Regions from separate parts of the Homo sapiens genome. Here region 2 is linked to region 1. Evidence: fine-mapped expression QTL. A gene starts in region 1. The other region holds a variant in brackets. All regions are shown on one strand. Distances are between the middles of the regions.

Region 1 (10,950 bases):
TCCCAAAGTGCTGTGATTACAGGCGTGAGCCACCATGCCCGGCCTATCTTCACTTTATTAAAAAAGAAAACGAGTGAGGATTACAGCCCCAAATGGACATTTTTTCCTGGGTGCTATGAAAAGGAACAATGGAAAGGAAAGGGAATATTTGTCTTCTTTTGTTTTATTGGGTCGTGTTTGTTTGTTTGTTTGTTTGTTTGTTTGACAGGGTCTCGCTCTGTCGCCCAGGCTAGAGTGCAGTGGTGCCATCATAGCTCACTGCAGCCTCCACCTCCTGGGCTCAAGCGATCCTCCAGCCTCAGCCTCTTGAGTAGCTGGGACTACAGGCACATGCCACAACACCCGGCTAATTTTTCCTTTTTTTTTTTTTTGTTTTTTTGTTTTTTTGTTTTGTTTTGTGACAGAGTCTCGCTCTGTCTCCCAGGCTGGAGTACAGTGGTGCAATCGCGGCTCACTGAAACCTCTGCCTCCCGGGTTCAGGCAATTCTCCTGCCTCAGGCTGTCGAGTAGCTGGGATTACAGGCACCCGCCACCACGCCCAGCTAATTTTTATATTTTTAGTAGAGATGGGGTTTGATCACGTTGGCCAGGCTGGTTTCAAACTCCCGACCTGAAGTGATCCACCTGCCTCGGCCTCCCAAAGTGCTGAGATTACAGGCATGAGCCACCATGCCCAGCCTATTTTTTTCTTTTAATTAGTTTTTGTAGATGCAGTGCTCTCACTATGTTGCCCAGGCTGGTCTCAAACTCCTGGGCTCAAGCAGTCCTCCTGCCTTGGTCTCCCAAAGTGCTGGGATTACAGGCATGATACACTGTACCCGGCCCTTTTCTCATTACTAATGTGTCTGTGTTGGCCCCCAACCCTACACTCTCTCTCTTAAATCCTCAAAACAGCCTAGTGACATCGGTGCTATTATAAGCCCCCTTTGATAGTTGAGGAAACTAAGGCACAGAAGTCAGGCGTGGTTTGCTCACACCTGTAGTCCCAACTACTTAGGAGGCTGAGGTGAGAGGATCACTTGAGCTCAAGAGGTGGAGACCAGCCTGGTCAACATAGCAAGATAACATCTGTAAAAAAAAAAAAAAAAAAAAAAAAAAAAAGTAAATTTAAAAAGAAAGAAACCAAGGCACAGAAAGTCACTGGCCAGGAAGCACTGCAGGTCGTGTGTGCAGCCCTGCGGGGAGGGCAGCTGAGACCTGATTTTTCCTTCCTTCTCCCGTCCCCGCAGAGTGCAAGGATGTGAACAAGGTCGCCTACTGCCCCCTGGTGCTCAAATTTCAGTTCTGCAGCCGAGCCTACTTCCGCCAGATGTGCTGCAAAACCTGCCATGGCCACTAGGGGGCGCGCGGCACCCGGAGCCACAGCTGGCGGGGTCTCCGCCGCCAGCCCTGCAGCGGGCCGGCCAGAGGGGGCCCCGGGGGGGCGGGAACTGGGAGGGAAGGGTGAGACGGAGCCGGAAGTTATTTATTGGGAACCCCTGCAGGGCCCTGGCTGGGGGGATGGAGAGGGGCTGGCTATCCCCCCAGAGCCCCTCTTCAGCATCCGCCCCTTCCAGTTCACATAGTGAGACCCCCCCTCCAGGGTGGGTCTGGGGAGGGGACAGCTGTTCACCCCAGCACCCTTTGAACCCACCCTTAGGGAGTCCCCAACACTCCCCCCCTCCTTTGATCGGAATATGTACTGTGAAGAGTAGGGGTGGGGAGGTGGTCTGCCGGTGCCCTGCCCCCCAGCACTGCCCTACCCCTCCACTCCGAGCTGGGGGGGAATCTGTGTCTGCTATGGGAGGGGGGGGGGTAGCACCACCTCCCTGACACCCTCCCCTGACCTGACTAGGGGGAGGATCCACCCCAACCTCTGCCCTGCCCGCCCCAGGGGCACCCCGACATCCAGGCCACCCCCTCATGGTGCTACAGACCCTGCCCTGGGGCCCACACACTCCTGCCAGGAAGCCCTACATCAATAAAGTTCTGTCTTGTGTAGATTTCTACGAATTGCGGTGTGTGTGTGTCAGTGCATCCAGTAGCCCCCACCCAGGTCTGGAAAGGACCACCCATTCTCCCAGGTCTACCCAACAGCCAAAAGGGGACTTCTTTTTTTTTTTTCCTGAGACGGTCCCTGTCGCCCAGCTATGCCTATCATAGCTCACTGCAGCCTTGATCTCCTGGACTCAAGTGATCCTCCCACTTCCACCTTCTGAATAGCTGGGACTACAGGCGTGCACGACCACACCCAGCTGATTTATTTATTTTTTTTTTTTATTTTTTTTTTTTTTTGAGACGGAGTCTTGCACTGTTGCCCAGGCTGGAGTGCAGTGGCACGATCTCGGCTCACTGCAAGCTCCGCCTCCTGGGTTCATGCCATTCTCGCCTCAGCCTCCCGAGTAGCTGGCACTACAGGCGCCCGCCAACATGCCCAGCTAATTTTTTGTACTTTTTTAGTAGAGACGGGGTTTCACCGTGTTAGCCAGGATGGTCTCGATCTCCTGACCTCGTGATCTGCCCGCCTCGGCCTCCCAGAGTGCTGGGATTACAGGCATGGGCCACCGTGCCCAGCCAGAAGGGGACTTTTAACATTGCAGACAGGAACCCAGGGATTTTAGGAGAAAAGTACAACAGCTTCTCGTGGAAGGGTTTTGCTTTTTTGTTTTTGTTTTTTGAGACAGGGTCTCACTCTGTAGCCCAGGCTGGAGTTCAGTGGCACGATCTCAGCTCACTGCAGCCTTGAACTCCTGGGCTTAAACGATTCTCCTGCCTACCCTGCCAAGTAACTGAGATTATAGGTGCAACAGCACACCTAGCTGATTTTTTAATTTTTTGTAGAGACGAGGTCTTGCTATGTTGCCCAAGCTGGTCTGGAACTCCTGGGCTCAAGCGATCCTCCCACCTCAGCCTCCCAAAGTTCTGGGATTACAGGCATCAGCCACCATGCCTGGCCCTCACAGAGGCTCTTAAAGCCACACGGTCTAGCACCTGCCACCCTGGCCATCACACTCTCCGTCACTCCGCATGCTCCAGCCACACCAGCCTCCCCGAACTTCCTCAATTGCCCTATGGTTTTCCCATATCTGGGCCTTTGCTTGAGCGCTTAGCATGGCCAGGTGCACGCTCCTGCCCCTTTACCTTTTTTAACTCCAGCTTACTCGCCGGTGTCAGCACAAACGTTGCCTCTTCCTAGAAGCCTCCCCTGATGGCCCCCAACAAAGTGGGGTCCTCTTACCCATTCATATTCACTCTTGAGTGCCTGGAGACATTGCTGAGAATTGCATGCCCCAAGCCCGTCAATTCTGCAAACTCGCTCAGGAGATTCCAGCAGAGACGGGCTCCTTCCCAGCTGTGGCCACTAGGGGCGCTGCATATTAACATCTTCAAGGGGGATGCGGGTTTATCGCCCTGGACCAAAGATAGATCTGAACATGGGTCCCCCAGGGTCTCCCAGGGTCGGGTCCTGCCTCGGCCACCTCCTTGCTGGGTGGTGTGGGGAAGTAACAACCTATTAGAACTGCCATTTCCTCACATGTCAAGAGGAGCCTCAGGTGGTTGGCTGGTGTCCCAAAGACCAGCTCATAGGCTGACACGTACCTGGGCCAGGCTCTGCTGGGGGGACCCACGTTCCCATTTTACAATGAGAAAAGGGAGTAACTAAGTCATCCAGGAAGTAGCCAAACTGGAGGCTGTTAAATCTAGATGTGACATCCAAAGTCAGGGACCTTTCAGATGCACCTGCTTCCCAGTACCCTCCACTTCTGCACACAAACACGTGTGACTTCTGAGGGTCATCTAAAGAGGGAGGTTGGGCCAGGCGTGGTGGCTTATGCCTGTAATCCCAGCACTTTGGGAGGCCGAGTTGGGAGGATCACCTGAGGTCAGGAGTTCAAGGCCGGCCTGGCCAACATGGCGAAATTCCGTCTCTACTAAAAATACAAATATTAGCCAGGTGTGGCGGTGGGCACCTGTAATCCCAGCTACTCAGGAGGCTGAGGCAGGAGAATCGCTTGAACCCAGGAGGCGGAGATTAAAGTAAGCTGAGATTGCACCACTGCATTCTAGCCTGGGTGACAGAGCTAGACTCCGTCTCAAAATAATAACAATAATAATAATGAAGGAGGTTGCCCAGGGATGCCCAGAGCAGACACAGCTGAAGAAGGCACCCTTCCCTGTTGTTGTTGTTTTTTTGGTTTTTTTGTTTTTTCTGGTTTGTTTTTAGAGACAGGGTCTCACTCTTTCGCCCAGGCTGGAGTGCAGTGGCGCAATCAGGGCTCACTGAGGCCTCCACCTCCCAGGTTCAAGCAATCCTCCCACCTCAGCCCTCTGAGTAGCTGGGACTGCAGGCTCATGCCACCATGCCCAGCTAATTTTTTTTCTTTTCATTTTTTGTAGAGATGGGGTCATGCTATATAGCCCAGGCTGGTCTCAAACTCCTGGACTCAAGCGATCCTCCAACCTTGGCCCCCCAAAGTATTGGGATTACAGGCGTGAGCCACCTCCCCTGGGCCCCTTCCTTGGTTTTAAAAAGAGACCCGGGAAGCCCAAATGCTTCCTGAATCGCCCTGAAAAGAGGTGGTTCGTCCTGCAGCCAGCTGACCCAAATGTTCCTGCAGCAGCCCTGTCCCCAAGGAGTTGGGGAAGAGGCCTCTGAGGTCCAGTAGTGGCTGCCATCAAGTTCTGACCCCTCCCTTCAGGCTCAGAGCCCCAAACAGCCAGCTCCCCGCCCCCCTCCACACCCAGCTTCCCTCCCCCATGGCCTCGGCCCCTCCCGCCAAAGGAAGTGAGAAGGGGCTGTTGTAAGAGGAACTAAAGCCGGGAGTCCGGTGAACGGGCAGAAGCAGGGCCATGCCCAAGCCACCCCCAAGATCCCCCTGAACCTGCACCTCCATCACGACCCATTCAGGAGCCTCCAGGAGCCCAGACACCAGCCCCCCACCATGGTAAGTCCTTCAAGGGTGGGATCTGGAAGAAGAAAGAGGAGGGACACCAGCCAGGTGGAGGTGTCCTAAAAATGACCATCAGAAATTGGGGTGAGGGGAGGGGCATGGTGGACTTCTGTGGGGGTGGGGTGTCTCTCAGTGCAGCTCAGGTGCCTCCAGCATCCCTTACCAGGGAGCAAGCTCCCATCTGTAGGTGGTGGGGATGCCAGGGTGGTATCCCTGGATCCAAGGATAGGGCAGGACCTGGAAGACAGAAGGTGGCCCAGGGAGAATCACAGAGTCTGCAGGGACAAGGACATAGCCTCCTTTGCTTGCAAATTAAGGGAGCCCTTTCCCAGTCCAGCCCAGTCTCTCGTCTCCCTGTGTAGCCTTGGGCTAGTCACTTCCCCTCTCTTGGCCCCGGTTCCCACAGATGTCATATTTGGAAATCCGTCTAGATGCGGAAGTTGCTCTTCAGGGGTCTTTCAGTTGCAACATTCTCAAGGTCTGTGGGTTCTGCCACAGAGTCCTCGGCTGAGATGGGAAGCTATGTCTAACAAGCGATGGGGTGGATTGACGCCCTCCCTGTGCCGGTGACGGGCGGTATGGCTGCAGCAGAGGCAGGAGAGGCTGAATACGTCCATGCCACCCTTTGGTGGGCATCCCTTATCCCAAGAGGAGGATGGCAGCCAGAGGTGTTGCTGCCTGTCAAGTCTGAGGTCTGTCGATGATAGCAACGGGGAGACTGTCGTGATCATGGCGCTATTCCTAGCAGTATCGTACCACCATAAGACGCAAAGTAAGAGGTGGCCAGGGCTGACCCCACCCCACAGCTCTCTGCTGTGTAGACCACTTCAGCTTTCATTTCTCGTCATTCAGTCAGTGAGGATGAGAGCATGTGGCTGTGACAGCGGCCACTGCAGGATTCTTGGCAGGTACAGCTTACTAGGGTGGAGTCAGGGACATAGGGCAAGAGGCAGAGGTGGTGTTAGTCTGAGAGACAACACCTTCTTTCAGGAAGCCAGTGAGGGCCAGGGACAGTGGCTCATGCCTGTAATCCCAGCATTTTAGGAGGCTGAGACAGGTAGATCACTTGAGGTCAGGTGTTCGAGACCAGCCTGGCCAACGTGGTGAAACCTCGTCTCTACTAAAAAATACAAAAAATTAACTGGGCGTGGTGGCACACGCCTGTAATCCCAGCTACATATGAGGCTGAGGCAAGAGAATAACTTGAACCCAGGAGGCGGAGGGTGCAGTGAGCTGAGATCCTGCCGCTGCACTCCAGCCTGGGTGACAGAGCACACTCCGTCTCAAAAAAGGAAAGCTGATGAGAAATTGGGCATCCCGGAATTCACACCCAAACCATCAGCTGGAGCTCTGAGACTGTTGGGGTGGGAATTCTTCCAAGATGAGAAGCAAGCCAGGGAGGCTCAGGTCCTGGGATGGGCAGGGCTTTGATCAAAAGAACACAGGAAGTGATTTGCTACTTGAAAGAAAGGCAACCCCTCCCCAAGGAAGCCCTCTGAAAATGCTTAGTCAACAGTCGGCTTGGCAGACAAGGTCTGGGAGGGGCCACCCGTATCGCAGAGGATGATAGAAGAGAAAAAAATGACACCCACCTCTGTCTGGGGATGCTGAAATCTTCCTGGAGGAGTGGTGAATGCCAGGAAGATCGCTGAAGGATTCAATGAAACAGTATTTCTGAAGTCCTTTACAACAGGGTCCCCAACCCCCGGGGTCATGGACTGCTATCGGGCCATGGTCTGTCTGTTAGAAACCATGAGCCCTATCGGGTCACAGAGCAGGAGATGAGTGGCAGGCAAGCAAGCCCGAGCTCCACCTCCTCTCAGATTCTCGGGGGCGCCATTAGATTATCACAGGATCGCAAACCCTGTTGTGAACTGCACACACGAGGGATCCAGGTTGCATGCTGCTTATGACAATCTAATGCCCGGCCGGGTGCGGTGGCTCACACCTGTAATCCTAGCACTTTGGGAGGCCGAGGCGGGCAGATCACGAAGTCAAGAGATAGAAACGATCCTGGCCAACGTGGTGAGACCCCGTCTCTCCTAAAAATACAAAAATGAGCTGGGTGTGGTGGCACATGCCTGTCATCCTAGCTACTCGGGAGGCTGAGGCAGGAGAATCGCTTGAACCCGGGAGGCGGAGGTTGCAGTGAGCCAAGATCACACCATTGCACTACAGCCTCGGCGACAGAGCCAGACTCCGTCTCAAAAAAAAAAAAAAAAGAAAAAGAAAATCTAATGCCGTTGGCAGGGTGCAGTGGCTCATGCCTGTAATCTCAACACTTTTGGAGGCCGAGGTGGGCGGATCACCTGAGGTCAAGAGTTCAAGACCAGCCTGGCCAACATGGCAAAACCCTGTCTCTACTAAAAATACAAAAATTAGCCAGTCGTGGTGGTGCGCGCCTGTAACCCCAGCTACCCGGGAACCTGAGATAGGAGAATCACTTGAACCCAGGAGGCAGAGGTCGCAATGAGACGAGATCACGCCACTGCACTCCAGCCTGGGCCACAGAGAGAGGCTCCATCTCAAAAAAAAAAGAAAGAGAGAGAGAAAGAAAGAAAGAAAAAGAAAGAAAGAAAGAGAAAGAAAAAGAAAGAAAGAGAGAAAGAGAAAGGAAGAAAGAAAGAAAGAGAGAAAGAAGAAAGAGAAAGAAAGGAAAGAAAGAAAGAAAGAAAGAAAGAAAGAAAGAAAGAAAGAAAGAAAGAGAGAGAGAGAGAGAGAGAAAGAAAGAAAGAAAGAAAGAAAGAAAGAAAGAAAGAAAGAAAGAAAGGGAAAAAAGAAGAAATAAAGGAAAAGAAAGAAAAGAAAATCTAATGCCCCGCTCCATGGTCCATGGAAAAATTGTCTTCCATTAAACCGGTCTCTGGTGCCAAAAATGTTGGGGACCATTGCTTTACAGAGCACATAACATGCACTTGATCCATGGTAGCTGCCATTAGCTGGGATGTCCATTCATTTCTGGATTCAGCAATGAGGATGGACGGAGGTGACGATTGTGGTAATTGGGGAGGAGTTGCTGCGAGTGGTCATTGCTGGGTTGTTGGTGTCATTGGTTGTGGTGGTGGTTGTGGCTGTTTCTTGTTGCAGGTTCGTGGTGATAATGGCTCTTGCAGGTGGGCTGGTGGTGGTGGCGGTTGGTGTTTAATGTTGTTCGTTGGTGGTGGATTGTTTTCAGCTGGAAATTCTGGAGATGCTTGGTGACCAGTGGAATGATGACCATCGGTGGTTGCTGTTATTTGGAGAGGAAAGGTGTTGGTAGTAGCGTTCATTTGCTGCTGGTAGTTTATTGTTGGTTTCTGGTAAGATGATGATCAGCAATGGTGGTGCTGGTTCAATGTTGGGTTTTGAACAGGATAGGACTGGTGACTGCTGCTTTCTGTGGTTGCTAATGGTAGTTGGTTATGTGTGGTTGTTGATGGCTAGTATTGTTTTTTTGTTTTGTTTTGTTTCTGAGACAGAGTCTCGCTCTGTCACCCCGGCTGGAGTGCAGTGGTGCAATCTCGGCTCACTGCAACCTCCACCTCCTGGCTTCAAGCAATTCTCGTGCCTCAGCCTCCCAAGTAGCTGAGATTACAAGCACCTGCCACCACACCCAGCTAATTTTTGTGCTTTTAGTGGAGACGGGGTTTCGCCATGTTGGCCAGGCTGGTCTCCAACTCCTAACCTCAAGTGATCCACCCGCTTTGGCCTCCCAAAGTGTGAGATTACAGGTGTGAGCCACTGTGCCTGGCCGATGACTAGATGGTGGTTGGTTATTATAGCGTGGTGGTGGTGGTGGTGGTGATCGTGGGAGAATGTAAGGAAGGCTGATGCTGGAATTGCTCATGGGACCTGTCTGACATTGGCTAGTCATGATGGTATTGGAGTTATCAGCAGTTTCTGTTTGTCTTTGAGAAGGGTAGGAGAGAGAGTGAAGACGTTCACTGGTTGCCTTTGGTTGGTGATGGTGGTCATGTGAGGATAATAGTGATTGTCTCTTCTTTTTTTTTTGAGACAGAGTCTCGCTCTGTCACCCAGGATGGAGTGCAGTGGCATGATCTTGGCTCACTGCAAGCCCCACCTCCTAGGTTCATGCCATTCTCCTGCCTCAGCCTCCCGAGTAGCTGGGACTACAGGCGCCCGCCACCATGCCTGGCTAATTTTTTTCTATTTTTTTAGTAGAGATGGGGTTTCACCGTGTTAGCAAGGATGGTCTCGATCTCCTGACCTCGTGATCTGCCCGCCTCAGCCTCCCAAAGTGCTGGGATTATAGGCGTGAGCCACCACACCTGGCCAATAGTGATTGTTTCTAAGGTACAGTCACAGGGCCAGGAACAATGGCTCATGCCTGTAATCCCAACAGTTTGGAAGACGGAGGTGGGAGGATCACTTGAGGCCAGATGTTCGAGACCAGCCTGGGAGACATGGCAATACCCCATCTCTACAAAGCATTTAAAAGTTAGCCAGGCATGGTGGCATGGACCTGTAGTACCAGCTAATTGGGAAGCTGAGGTGGGAAGATCACTTGAGCCCAGGAGTTCCAGGCTGCAGTGAGCTGTGATGGCCCCACTGCACTCCAGCCTGAGCAACAGAGACAGACTCTGTTTCTAAACAAATAAATAAGATACAGCCACAAAGCAGGGAGACCAGTGAAGTGGCTGCTGGGTCCAGAATCAGTGGCCATGAGGATGGACAGGAAAGGCTGGGAGTCAAAAGGAATTTAGGAGAAAGAATCAGTTAAGACCACTAACTGGGCACGGGCACAGTGGCTCACACCTGTAATCCCAGCACTTTAGGAGGCCGAGGCAGGTGGATCACTTGAGGTCAGGTGTTCGAGACCAGTCTGGCCACCATGGTGAAACCCCATCTCTACTAAAAATACAAAAATTAGCCAAGCGGGGTGGCATGTGCCTGTAATCCCAGCTACTCAGGAGGCTGAGGCAGCAGAATCGCTTGAACCCGAGAGGCAGAGGTTGCAGTGAGCTGAGATCGCACCACTACACTCCAGCTTGGGCAACAGAGCGAGACTCTGTCTCAGAGGGGAAAAAAAAATGCCCATAATTGATTGGATGCAAAGAGTGAACGTAACAATGAATCAGAGACAGGCAGGTTTCTGTCTTGGGGGTTGGGGACCACATCCCAGAGGATCTTCCCCAAAAAGCAGGAGGGACAAGACCAGGGTTCCCCAGCTCCAGCTTCTGCGTGGAGATGTTTGAGACGGTAGCCACCGACTGTCAGCAATCTCCAGCGACGAGACAAAGAGCCCAGCTCCAGAAAGACAAGGGTCCCCACGTATAAAGGCCAGGCGCGGTGGCTTACGCCTGTAATCCCAATACTTTAGGAGGCCGAGGCGTGCGGATCACGAAGTCAGGAGATCGAGACCATCCTGGCTAACACAGTGAAACCCCGTCTCTAAAAATACAGGGGCTGGGCGCGGTGGCTTACACCTATAATCCCAGCACTTTGGGAGGCCGAGGCGGGCAGATCATGAGGTCAGGAGATCGAGACCATCCTGGCTAACATGGTGAAACCCCGTCTCTACTAAAAATACAAAAAATTACCCAGGCGTGGTGGCGGGTGCCTGTAGTCCCAGCTACTTGGGAGGCTGAGGCAGAAGAATGGCGTGAACTCGGGAGGCAGAGCTTGCAGTGAGCCGAGATGGCGCCACTGCACTCCAGCCTGGGTGAGAGAGCAAGACTCCGTCTCAAAACAATAAAAATACAAAAATACAAAAAAAAAATTAGCCGGGCGCGGTGGCGGGCGCCTGTAGTCCCAGCTACTCGGGAGGCTGAGGCAGGAGAATCGCTTGAACCCAGGAGGTGGAGGTTGCAGTGAGCCGAGATCATGCCACTGCACTCCAGCCTGGGCAACAGAGTGAGATTCCATCTAAAAAAAAAAAAGAGAGAGAGAGAGAAAAGAAAAGAAACAGAGTCCAGTCCCCCTGCTCCCCTGAGGGATGGAGCCTTTGGAGGTGAGAATGTTGTTTGCACAGTGCATGGACGCAGGGTGTGGCCCCAGAGCCCCACTGAGCTGGGGGCAA
Region 2 (10,158 bases), 53 kb after region 1:
CTGTACCTGGGCGGGCCAGGTACACACTCACTTGACCCATATCTCATGTCCCAGAGAGTCACCTAGCCCAGTAACTCACCCTACCCTCACCTTAGAGAGGCCTATGTGTGGCAGGTACACACTGAGATCACCTATATACCATCTTTACCTGGATGGATAGTCTCATATGGCCTGGACACCCTCACCTACCTTGGACAAGTTTATGTGGCAGGTGCCTCCTCACATGATCTGTACAACTTCACATACCAGACACACATTATTGGGTACCTTCACCTGATCCACCCACCTGCTTTGGACAGGTCTGTGTGGCAGGTATGCCCTCTCAGGTGACCTGTATACCATCACCTTAAATGTTTTCACTGAGACAGGTATCCCCACTAGACCCAGAGAACTCTGACCGCAGGCCAGCTCAACCGGCTTGCACATTCACCCTTCTACCAGGTACACCCTCACCTGCCTTCCTGTACAAACTCATAGAGTTCAGATACACACCCGCTCACTTCCTCTCATGATCCAGATACTCCTATTTACCTGACTTGTACACCCTCACCTGAACCATAATACCTTTACCTGAGCTGGCTACAGTCACATGACCCAAGTACTTTCACCTGGTCTAAGTGTTCTCATCTGGCCCGGGAACCCATGTCCAGCAGGTGCCTTACCTACCCAGCACCTGTTCACTGACCCAAACACCCTTTTCTAGCCAACCAACCAACCAACACATTCCCATCTGACCTCGTTTCTTTTTTGTTTTTCTTTTTTGTTTTTTTGAGACAGAGTTTTGCTCTTTTGTGTGTGTGTGTTGAGTCAGAATCTTGTTATGTCGCCCAGGCTGGAGTGCAGTGGCACAACCTCGGCTCACTGCAACCTCTGCCTCCCAGGCTCAAGCAATTCTCCTGCCTCAGCCTCCCGAGTAGCTGGGACTACAGGCATGTGCCACCACGCCCAGCTAGTTTTTTGTATTTTTAGTAGAGATGGGGTTTCATGGTATTAGCCAGGATGGTCTCAATCTTCTGACCTTGTGATCCACCCACCTCAGCCTCCCAAAGTGCTGGGATTACAGGCGTGTGCCACCGCGCCTGATCTGTTATTTTTTGTTTGTTTGTTTTTGAGACAGGGTCTTGCTCTGTCACCCAGGCTGGAGTGCAGTGGCAGGATCTCGGCTCACTGCAACCTCATCCTCCTGGGTTCAAGCGATTCTCCTGTCTCAGCCTCCTGAGTAGCTGGGACTACAGGTGCCCACCACCTCGCCCAGCTAATTTTTGTATTTTTAGTAGAGACGGGGTTTCACCATGTTGGTCAGCCTGGTTTCAAACTCCTGACCTCATGATCTGCCCGCCTCGGCCTCCCAAAATGCTGGGATTACAGGCGTGAGCCATGGCACCCAGCCCTCCTTCTGTTTCTTATATAACAACTCATGGCCAGGCGTGGTGGCGCACACCTGTAATCCCAACCCTTTGGGAGGCCAAGGAGGACAGTTTGCTTGAGATCAGGAGCTCAAGACCAGCCTGGGCAACAGGGCAAAACCCTGAATCTACAAAAAATACCAAAATTAGCTGGGCATGGTGGTGCGCACCTGTGGTCCCAGCTACTCAGGAGGCTGAGGCAGGTGGATCACTCAAGCCCAGGAGGGGGAGGTTGCAGTGAGCTATGATGGCACCACTGCACTCCAGCCTGAGCGACAGAGTGAGACCCTGTCTACAAAACAGACGACTCATACACCTTCACCTGGAGGGCTCCCACCTTCCTCACCTGACCTGCCAGCACCACCCCTCTGCCTGGGGTGGATCCTCTGTGGCCAGGCTGGCCAGGCTACAGGCATCAGCCTCTAATCCTGCATCCCCACAGCCCATCAAGCGGGACTTGATCCTGACGCCCAAGTGTGTGTATGTGATTGGGCGAGAGAAAGTGAAGAAGGGACCTGAGAAGGGCCAGGTGTGTGAAGTCTTGAAGAAGAAAGTGGACATCCAGGCTCTGCGGGGAGTCTCCCTCAGGTGAAGCCAGGTCCTTACCTGCCGCACAGTCACTCTCACCTGTCCCCTGGCTGCCCTCATTCTAGTGACCCCGTCTGTTACCCTGACAATCTTACCTGGTGCCATGCCTGTAGCCCTCTGTTGGCCCCACCTGTCATGTTCACCTGCCCCCTATGCTCATGATCCTTAGATGCCAAATCCTTCCGTCCTGCACCTTACCCTCTTACTAGACCTCACCTGGCCCTCTTCTGTAACCACCTCTTCCACTCCTTGCCACATCCCCCTTTTTCTCCTACCTGGTCACCGCTGACTTGGCCCTTAGCTGACCCTTCCCTAAATCCACCTTCAGCCACCTTCATCTGTCTCTCTCACCTGTCGCCCTCACCTGTGTCCCACCTGACGCTCTCACCCGCCCCTCCCCAGCACGCGACAGGACGACTTCTTCATCCTCCAAGAGGATGCCGCCGACAGCTTCCTGGAGAGCGTCTTCAAGACCGAGTTTGTCAGCCTTCTGTGCAAGCGCTTCGAGGAGGCGACGCGGAGGCCCCTGCCCCTCACCTTCAGCGACACGTACGGCCCCGCCAACCCCAGCACCATCTCGGGGTGGTCTCGGCGCGGCGCACCCTCTCCCGCCCCACCGACCCGGCCGAACTGCGCTTCGGCCCCGGCCGCGGCCCCGCCCCTGCCCCAACCAGCGAGAGTTGGGTGGGGCGGGGGACCTCAGCCAGCGCCCCCAAGCTTTCTTCTCTCCCCATAGACTACAGTTTCGGGTGAAGAAGGAGGGCTGGGGCGGTGGCGGCACCCGCAGCGTCACCTTCTCCCGCGGCTTCGGCGACTTGGCAGTGCTCAAGGTTGGCGGTCGGACCCTCACGGTCAGCGTGGGCGATGGGCTGCCCAAGAGCTCCAGTGAGTCTGCGCGGAACTAGGGCAGAGGGGGCGGGGCCAGCGAGGCTGGTTAAGAGTGGACGAAGGCCAGGAAGGGGAGTGTCTACAGAGAGAGAGAGAGAGACTTTTGAGTTTTGTGGTTTTTTTAAGACGGAGTCTCACTCTGTCGCCCAGGCTGGAGTGTTGTGGCACGATCTTGGCTCACCGCAACCTCCGCCACCCGGGTTCAAGCGATTGTCTTGCCTCAGCCTCCCGAGTAGCTGGGATTACAGGCGCCTGCCACCGCGCCCAGCTAATTTTTGTAGTTTTAGTAGAGACGGGGTTTCACCATCTTGGCCAGGCTGGTCTTGAACTCATTACCTCATGCTCCACCCGCCTCGGCCTCCCAAAGTGCTGGGATTACAGGCGTGAGCCACTGCGCCCGGCCAGAGAGACAGACTTTTAAACAAAGGCCGCAACCAATTAGTGGGCGTGAAATGTGGAGGAGGGACGTGGCCATGGAGGAAACCAATCAAAATAGTGGGGCGGGGCCAGCAGGCTGGACCAGAGAGGGCAACAGCAAGGAAGGGGCGGGTCTAGAGAGAGAGAAAGACTGTTAAGGAGAAGACATGACCAATGCGGGGGCGAGAAATGTAGAGGGGTGCGGCCAGAGCGGCAACCCTGGAACTGGGTAGTGATGAAGGAGTGACCTAAAGTGGGCGGGCCCAAAGAGCAAGGCCAGTGAGGTGTTGGGCCCTTGGGGGGCGAGGCCAATTAGTGGGCGGAGCCAGTGTAACTGTACCTAAGGGGCGGTGCTAATGGGAGAGCCTGAGGGGGCGGGGTGCGGCGGAGCCTCAGAATGGACTAGATTTGTGGGCGGGGCAAAGAGCGTGGTCTGTCTGTCATTCAACTCCCTGACACTCTTCTTTCAGAGCCTACGCGGAAGGGAATGGCCAAGGGAAAACCTCGGAGGTCGTCCCAAGCCCCTACCCGGGCGGCCCCTGCGCCCCCCAGAGGTGAGGAGCTGCGTCCCTTGCTATATTCCCTTGTCTGTTGTGGGTCCCATGGCCTAAGCCAGACCTTCAGCAAACGAAATCTAACAAACACAGTTTACCACTCACTTCTCTGTCCAGGACTCTCCGTAGCTCCACATCTCCCGCAGAATAAAGGCTAAACTTAGTTTGGCATTCAGAGCCCTTCAAAACCCAAACCCAGCTAACCACTGACATCTTCTCTCCTCCTACCCTACACTCCTGCCCTGTAAACTACATCTTTTTTTTTTTTTTTTTTTTTTTGAGATGGAGTCCAACTCTGTCTCCCAGGCTGGGGTGCAGTGGAGCGATCTCGGTTCACTGCAACCTTCACCTCCTGGATTCAAGCGATTCTCCTGCCTCAGCCTCCCGAGTAGCTGAGATTACAGGCACCCGCCACCACGCCCGGCTAATTTTTGTATCGTTTTAGTAGAGACAGGGTTTCACCACGTTGTTCAGGCTGGTCTCGAACTCCTGACCTCAGGTGACCCGCCCGTCTCGGCCTCCGAAAGTGCTGGGATTAACAAGCATGAGCTACGGCGCCTGGCCTCAAACTACATCTTATTTTCCCAATTCACAAAATTTATTCTTACCTCCAGGCCTTTGGGCCGTTTTCTCTGCTTCTCTCTCAAATTCCCATTCCATTCGTTGAGCTCTTATTTATCCACCAAGACGTACCCACAGAAGCTCTCCTACAGAGGATAGGAGGAGGGAAACTTGCCCCTGCAAAGCCACTCCTGGCCAGGCAAGATGGCTCACACCTGTAATCCAAGCACTCTTGGTAGGCCAAGGCAGGAGGATCACTTGAGTTCAAGATCAGCCTGGGCAACATAGCAAGATCCTGTCTCTACCAAAAATTCTTTCTTTTTTTTTTTTTTTTTGAGACAGTCTCGCTCTGTCACCCAGGCTGGAGTGCAGTGGCATGATCTTGGCTCACTGCAACATCCACCTCCTGGGTTCAAGCGATTCTCCTGCCTCAGCCCCCTGAGTAGCTGGGACTACAGGCGTGTGCTACCACGCCTAGATTTTTTTTTTTTTTTTTTTTTTGAGACAGAGTCTAGCCCTGTTGCCCAGGCTGGGGTGCAATGGTGCGGTCTCAGCGCACTGCAACTTTCCACCTTCTGGGTTCAAGAGATTCTCCTGCCTCAGCCTCCCCAGTAGCTGGGATTACAGGCATGCACCACCATGCCCAGCTAATTTTATCTTTAGTAGAGACAAGGTTTCACCATGTTGGCCAGACTGGTCTGGAACTCCTGACCTCGTGATCCACCCGCCTCGGCCTCCCAAACTGCTGGGATTACAGGTGTGAGCCACCGCGCCCGGCCTTTTTTTTTTTTTTTTTTTTGAGACGGTGTCTTGCTCTGTTGCCCAGGCTGGAGTGCAGTGGCGTGATCTTGGCTCACTGTAACCTCCACCTCCCAGGTTGAAGCAATTCTCCTGCCTCAGCCTCCCGAGTAGCTGGGACTACAGGCACACGCCATCATGCCTGGCTAATTTTTGTATTTTTAGTAGAGGCAGAGTTTCACTATGTTGGCCAGGCTTGTCTCAAACTCCAGACCTCGTGATCAGCCCACCTTAGCCTCCCAAAGTGCTAGGATTACAGGCGTGAGCCACCGCGCCTAGCCTAAAAATTCTTTTTAAATTAGCTGGGCATGGTGGTGTGTGCCTATAGTCCCAGCTATTTAGGAGGCTGAGAGGGGAGAATATCATGAGCCTAAGAGTTGGAGTCTGCAGTGAGCTATGATCTCACTGCTGCACTCCATCCTGGGCCACAGAGCAAAACCCTGTCTCTAAACAAATAAAAAATAAATAAGGCCAAGTACAGTGGCTCATGCCTGTAAAACCAGCATGTTGGGAGGCCGAAGTGGGAGGATTGCTTGAGGCCAGGAGTTTGAGACCAGCCTGAGCAACATAGTGAGACCCCATCTCTACTTTAAAAATTATAAAAATCAACTGGGCATAGTGGAGCATACCTGTAGTCCCAGCTCCCCTTAAAAGGAGGCTAAGGAGGGAGGATTGCTTGAGCCCAGGAGGTCAGAGTTGCAGTGAGCTACGATTGTACCACTGCACTCCAACCTGGGCGAGAGTGAGACCATGTCTCAAAATAAACAAATAAAAGTAAAAAATAATTGGCCAGGCGCGGTGGCTCATGCCTGTAATCCCAGCACTTTGGGAGGCCAAGGCGGGCGGATCACAAGGTCAGGAGATCGAGACCATCCTGGCTAACATGATGAAACTCCGTCTCTACTAAAAATATTTAAAAAATTATCCAGGCGTGGTGGCAGGTGCCTGTAGTCCCAGCTACTCGGGAGGCTGAGGCAGGAGAATGGCGTGAACCCAGGAGGCGGAGCTTGCAGTGAGCCGAGATCGCGCCACTGCACTCCAGCCTGAGCGACTGAGCAAGACTCCATCTCAAAAAAAAAAAAA[AG/G]TAAAAAATAATTTTAAAATTATGCTTAAAAAAGCTTCTGTCTAGGCCCTCCTAGCGGCAGAGTCCCTCCGTCTGGCCCAATCCTTACCACACTGGGTTGAGAGTGTCGCAGTCTCCTCCCTCAGCCTGAGAACTTGAAGCCAAGTCCTCCTCAAATCCTCCTAGCATCACCCTAATACATGTCTTCATCCTTGCTCCTGCCACAGGCATGGATCGCAATGGGGTGCCCCCCTCTGCCAGAGGGGGCCCCCTGCCCCTGGAGATCATGTCTGGAGGGGGCACCCACAGGCCTCCCCGGGGCCCTCCGTCCACATCCCTGGGAGCCAGCAGACGACCCCGGGCACGTCCGCCCTCAGAGCACAACACAGAATTCCTCAACGTGCCTGACCAGGGCATGGCCGGGTAGGTGGGGTGGGAGGGCAGCTCCAGGAGGTGGGCAGGGGGTAGGGGAGTGTCTGGGGCTGTGACTCAAACCCCCTGTGCCCACAGCATGCAGAGGAAGCGCAGCGTGGGGCAACGGCCAGTGCCTGGTGTGGGCCGACCCAAGCCCCAGCCTCGGACACATGGTCCCAGGTGCCGGGCCCTATACCAGTACGTGGGCCAAGATGTGGACGAGCTGAGCTTCAACGTGAACGAGGTCATTGAGATCCTCATGGAAGGTGTGTGTACCAGGGCAGAAGCTGGGGTGAGGGGAGTGGTAAGAACCCTGACATCGGCCGGGCGCGGTGGCTCACGCCTGTAATCCCAGCATTTTGGGAGGCCAAGGCGGGCAGATCACGAGGTCAGGAGATCGAGACCATCCTGGCTAACACAGTGAAACCCCGTCTCTACTAAAAATACAAAAAATTAGCCGGGCGTGGTGGCGGGCGCCTGTAGTCCCAGCTACTCGGGAGGCTGAGGCAGGAGAATGGCATGAACCCGGGAGGCGGAGCTTGCAGTGAGCCGAGATTGCGCCAACACACTCCAGCCTGGGCGATAGAGCGAGACTCCGTCTCAAAAAAAAAAAAAAAAAGAACCCTGACTGACATTGCCAGGCAGACCCCACCACTGCACACCCTCCCCACGGGAGAACAGAGATAACAGATGGGCGAGGTGGCTCATACCTGTAATCCCAGCACTTTCAGTGGCTGAGGCAGGAGGATCACTTGAGGTCAGGAGTTTGAGACAAGCCTGGGCAACCTAGCAAGACCCCATCTCTACAAAAGATTTACAAAAAAAAAACTTTTAAAGAGTAGAAATGGCCGGATGCAGTGGCTCACACCTGTAATTCCAGCACTTTGGGAGGCTGAGGCAGGAGGATGGCTTAAGCCTAGGAGTTTAAGACCAGCCTGGACAACATAGGGAGTCCCCATGAACAAGATGGACAGACCAGGCATGAGAGCTTTCTCCAGGGCCAGCTAGGGGCACCTCAAGCTTTCCTCTCTCCCACAGATCCCTCGGGCTGGTGGAAGGGCCGGCTTCACGGCCAGGAGGGCCTTTTCCCAGGAAACTACGTGGAGAAGATCTGAGCTGGGCCCTGGGATACTGCCTTCTCTTTCGCCCGCCTATCTGCCTGCCGGCCTGGTGGGGAGCCAGGCCCTGCCAATGAGAGCCTCGTTTACCTGGGCTGCAATAGCCTAAAAGTCCAGTCCTTTGGCCTCCAGTCCTGCCCAGGCCCTGGGTCACCAGGTCACTGCTGCAGCCCCCGCCCCTGGGCCCTGGTCTTCCTCCAACATCACACCTGCTGCCCATTCTCCATTTCTGTGTGTGTCAAAGGGGACTAACAGCAGAATCTACCTCCCAACTGCCATGTGATTAAGAAATGGGTCTTGAGTCCTGTGCTGTTGGCAAAGTGCCAGGCACAGTTGGGGAGGGGGGGGTCCTTAACAAGCGTGACTTTGCTCATTCTGTCATCACTAAGGCAATAAACCTTTGCCAGGTGAAAGCACGAGTTAACTTACTAAGTGCCCAACAAGGACGATGTTTTCACAGCCCTGTGAGGTAGGAGCTGTGAAGGACCCCATCTTACAGGTGGAACAATGGAGGTTCAGAGAGGTTCACTGACCCAAGACTGCACAGAGCCATGCCTTGCATTCATATGTGACCATAAAGCTTGAATTTGTCCCAGTTTGGGCTGGGCGCAGTGGCTCACGCCTGTAATCCCAGCACTTTGGGAGGCTGAGGCGGGCAGATCACGTGAGACCAGGAGTTCAAGACCAGCCTGGATAACACAGCAAAACCCTGTTTCTACTAAAAATTTAAAAAAGAAAAAAAAAAAAGCCGGGTGTGGTGGTGCCTGCCTGTAATCCCAGCTACTGGGAAGGCTGAAGCAGGAGAATCACTTGAACCCGGGAGGCAGAGGCTGCCGTGAGCCGAGATCATGCCACTGCACTCCAGCCTGGGCAACAGAGCAAGACCCTGTCTCAGAAAAAAAGAAAGGAAGGAAGGGAGGGAGGGAGGGAGGAGGTGGGCGCGGTGCCTCACACCTGTAATCCTAGCACTTTGGGAGGCCGAGGCGGGCAGATCACAAGGTCAGGAGATCGAGACCATCCTGGCTAACATGGGGAAACCTTGTCTCTACTAAAAATACAAAAAAGTAGCCGGGCGTGGTGGCGGGCGCCTGTAGTCCCAGCTGCTCGGGAGGCTGAGGCAGGAAAATGGCATGAACCTGGGAGAAGGAGCTTGCAGTGAGCCGAGATTGCGCCACTGCCCTCCAGCCTGGGCAACAGAGCGAGACTCCATCTCAAAAAAAAAAAAAAGAAAGAAAAGAAAATAAAGAATTTGTCTCAGTTTCCCTTCCAAAATCTGCATCCCAAATGGTCCAGCAGGTCCTGTTAGTCTTGAAGCTACAGCCGCCAAACCCATCTGGGACCTATGGAGAGAGGCAGGTCCCACATGCCACATGCTCCCACCCTCAATGCACTCTGGGTCACTCCTGCCCCCTGCACCCCAATCCCATTTCTGTGCCCTCTTAGTCTTCACCTAACTGGGACTAAGACTGGAGTCCTGCTATGGTCTGAGCCTAAAGATCCTGAATTTTGGGCTGGGCGCAGTGGCTCATGCCTGTAATCCCAGCACTTTGGGAGGCCAAGGCGGGCGGATCATCTGAGGTCAGGAGTTCCAGACCAGCCTCACCAACATGGTGAAACCCTGTCTCTACTAAAAATACAAAAATTAGCTGGGCATGGTGGCACGTGCCTGTAGTCCCTGATACTTGAGAGGCTGAGGCAGGAGGTGGAGGCTGCAGTGAGCCAAGACTGCACCATGGAATTCCAGTCTGAGCAATAGAGTGAGACTCTGTCTCAAAAAAAAAAAAAAATTCCTGAATTTTGGGAGTGGTGGTGCATGCCTGTAGTCCCAGCACTTTGTGAGGCCGAGGCTGGAGGATCACTTGATCCCGGGAGTTCAAGGCTGAAGTGAGCTATGATCGCGTCACTGCACTCCAGCCTGGGCAACTCAGCAAGACCCTGTCTCTAATACTAAAATAAACCAAATCCTGGCCAAGCATGGTGCCTCACAGCTGTAATCCCAGCACTTTGGGAGGCCAAGGCAGGAGGATCACTTAAGGTTTGACCACCCTAGGCAACCTACTAATACCCTGTCTCTACAAAAAAATTTTAAAATTGGCCGGGCACGGTGGGTCACACTTGTAATCCCAGCACTTTGGGAGGCCAAGGCGGGCAGATCATAAGGTCAGGAGATCGAGACCATCCTGGCTAACACAGTGAAACCCCATCTCTGCTAAAAATACAAAAAATTAGCCGGGCGTGATGGTGCGCGCCCGTGGTCCCAGCTACTCGGGAGGCTGAGGCAGCAGAATTGCTTGAACCTGGGAGGCGGAGGTTGCAGTGAGCCGAGATGGCGCCACTGCACCCCAGCCTGG

What was found. PIP is the estimated chance that this variant, and not a neighbour inherited with it, causes the effect.
Region 2: its variant is fine-mapped to the expression of MYO1F in whole blood (INTERVAL, PIP above 0.99).

What each region holds. Positions count from the first base shown.
Region 1 is chr19:8,571,282-8,582,231 of GRCh38, reverse strand. MYO1F (myosin IF) reads left to right here and starts at 4,790. Exons shown (of 28, transcript NM_012335.4): 1 at 4,790-4,925. The coding sequence starts at 4,923. ADAMTS10 (ADAM metallopeptidase with thrombospondin type 1 motif 10) reads left to right here. Exons shown (of 26, transcript NM_030957.4): 26 at 1,230-1,992. The coding sequence ends at 1,339. RefSeq lists silencers at 1,403-1,452, 3,264-3,458, 4,679-4,828, 5,366-5,415 and enhancers at 5,536-5,715, 5,886-5,945, 6,286-6,345, 10,839-10,950.
Region 2 is chr19:8,519,174-8,529,331 of GRCh38, reverse strand. MYO1F (myosin IF) reads left to right here. Exons shown (of 28, transcript NM_012335.4): 22 at 1,849-1,994; 23 at 2,397-2,543; 24 at 2,731-2,879; 25 at 3,770-3,853; 26 at 6,503-6,698; 27 at 6,786-6,955; 28 at 7,728-8,554. The coding sequence ends at 7,804. It overlaps LOC124904633 (a long non-coding RNA gene), which reads right to left and starts at 2,887. Exons shown (of 3, transcript XR_007067131.1): 1 at 2,788-2,887. RefSeq lists enhancers at 2,604-3,579, 6,156-6,655 and a silencer at 3,620-3,699. The variant AG/G (reference allele first, on the strand shown) is at 6,296.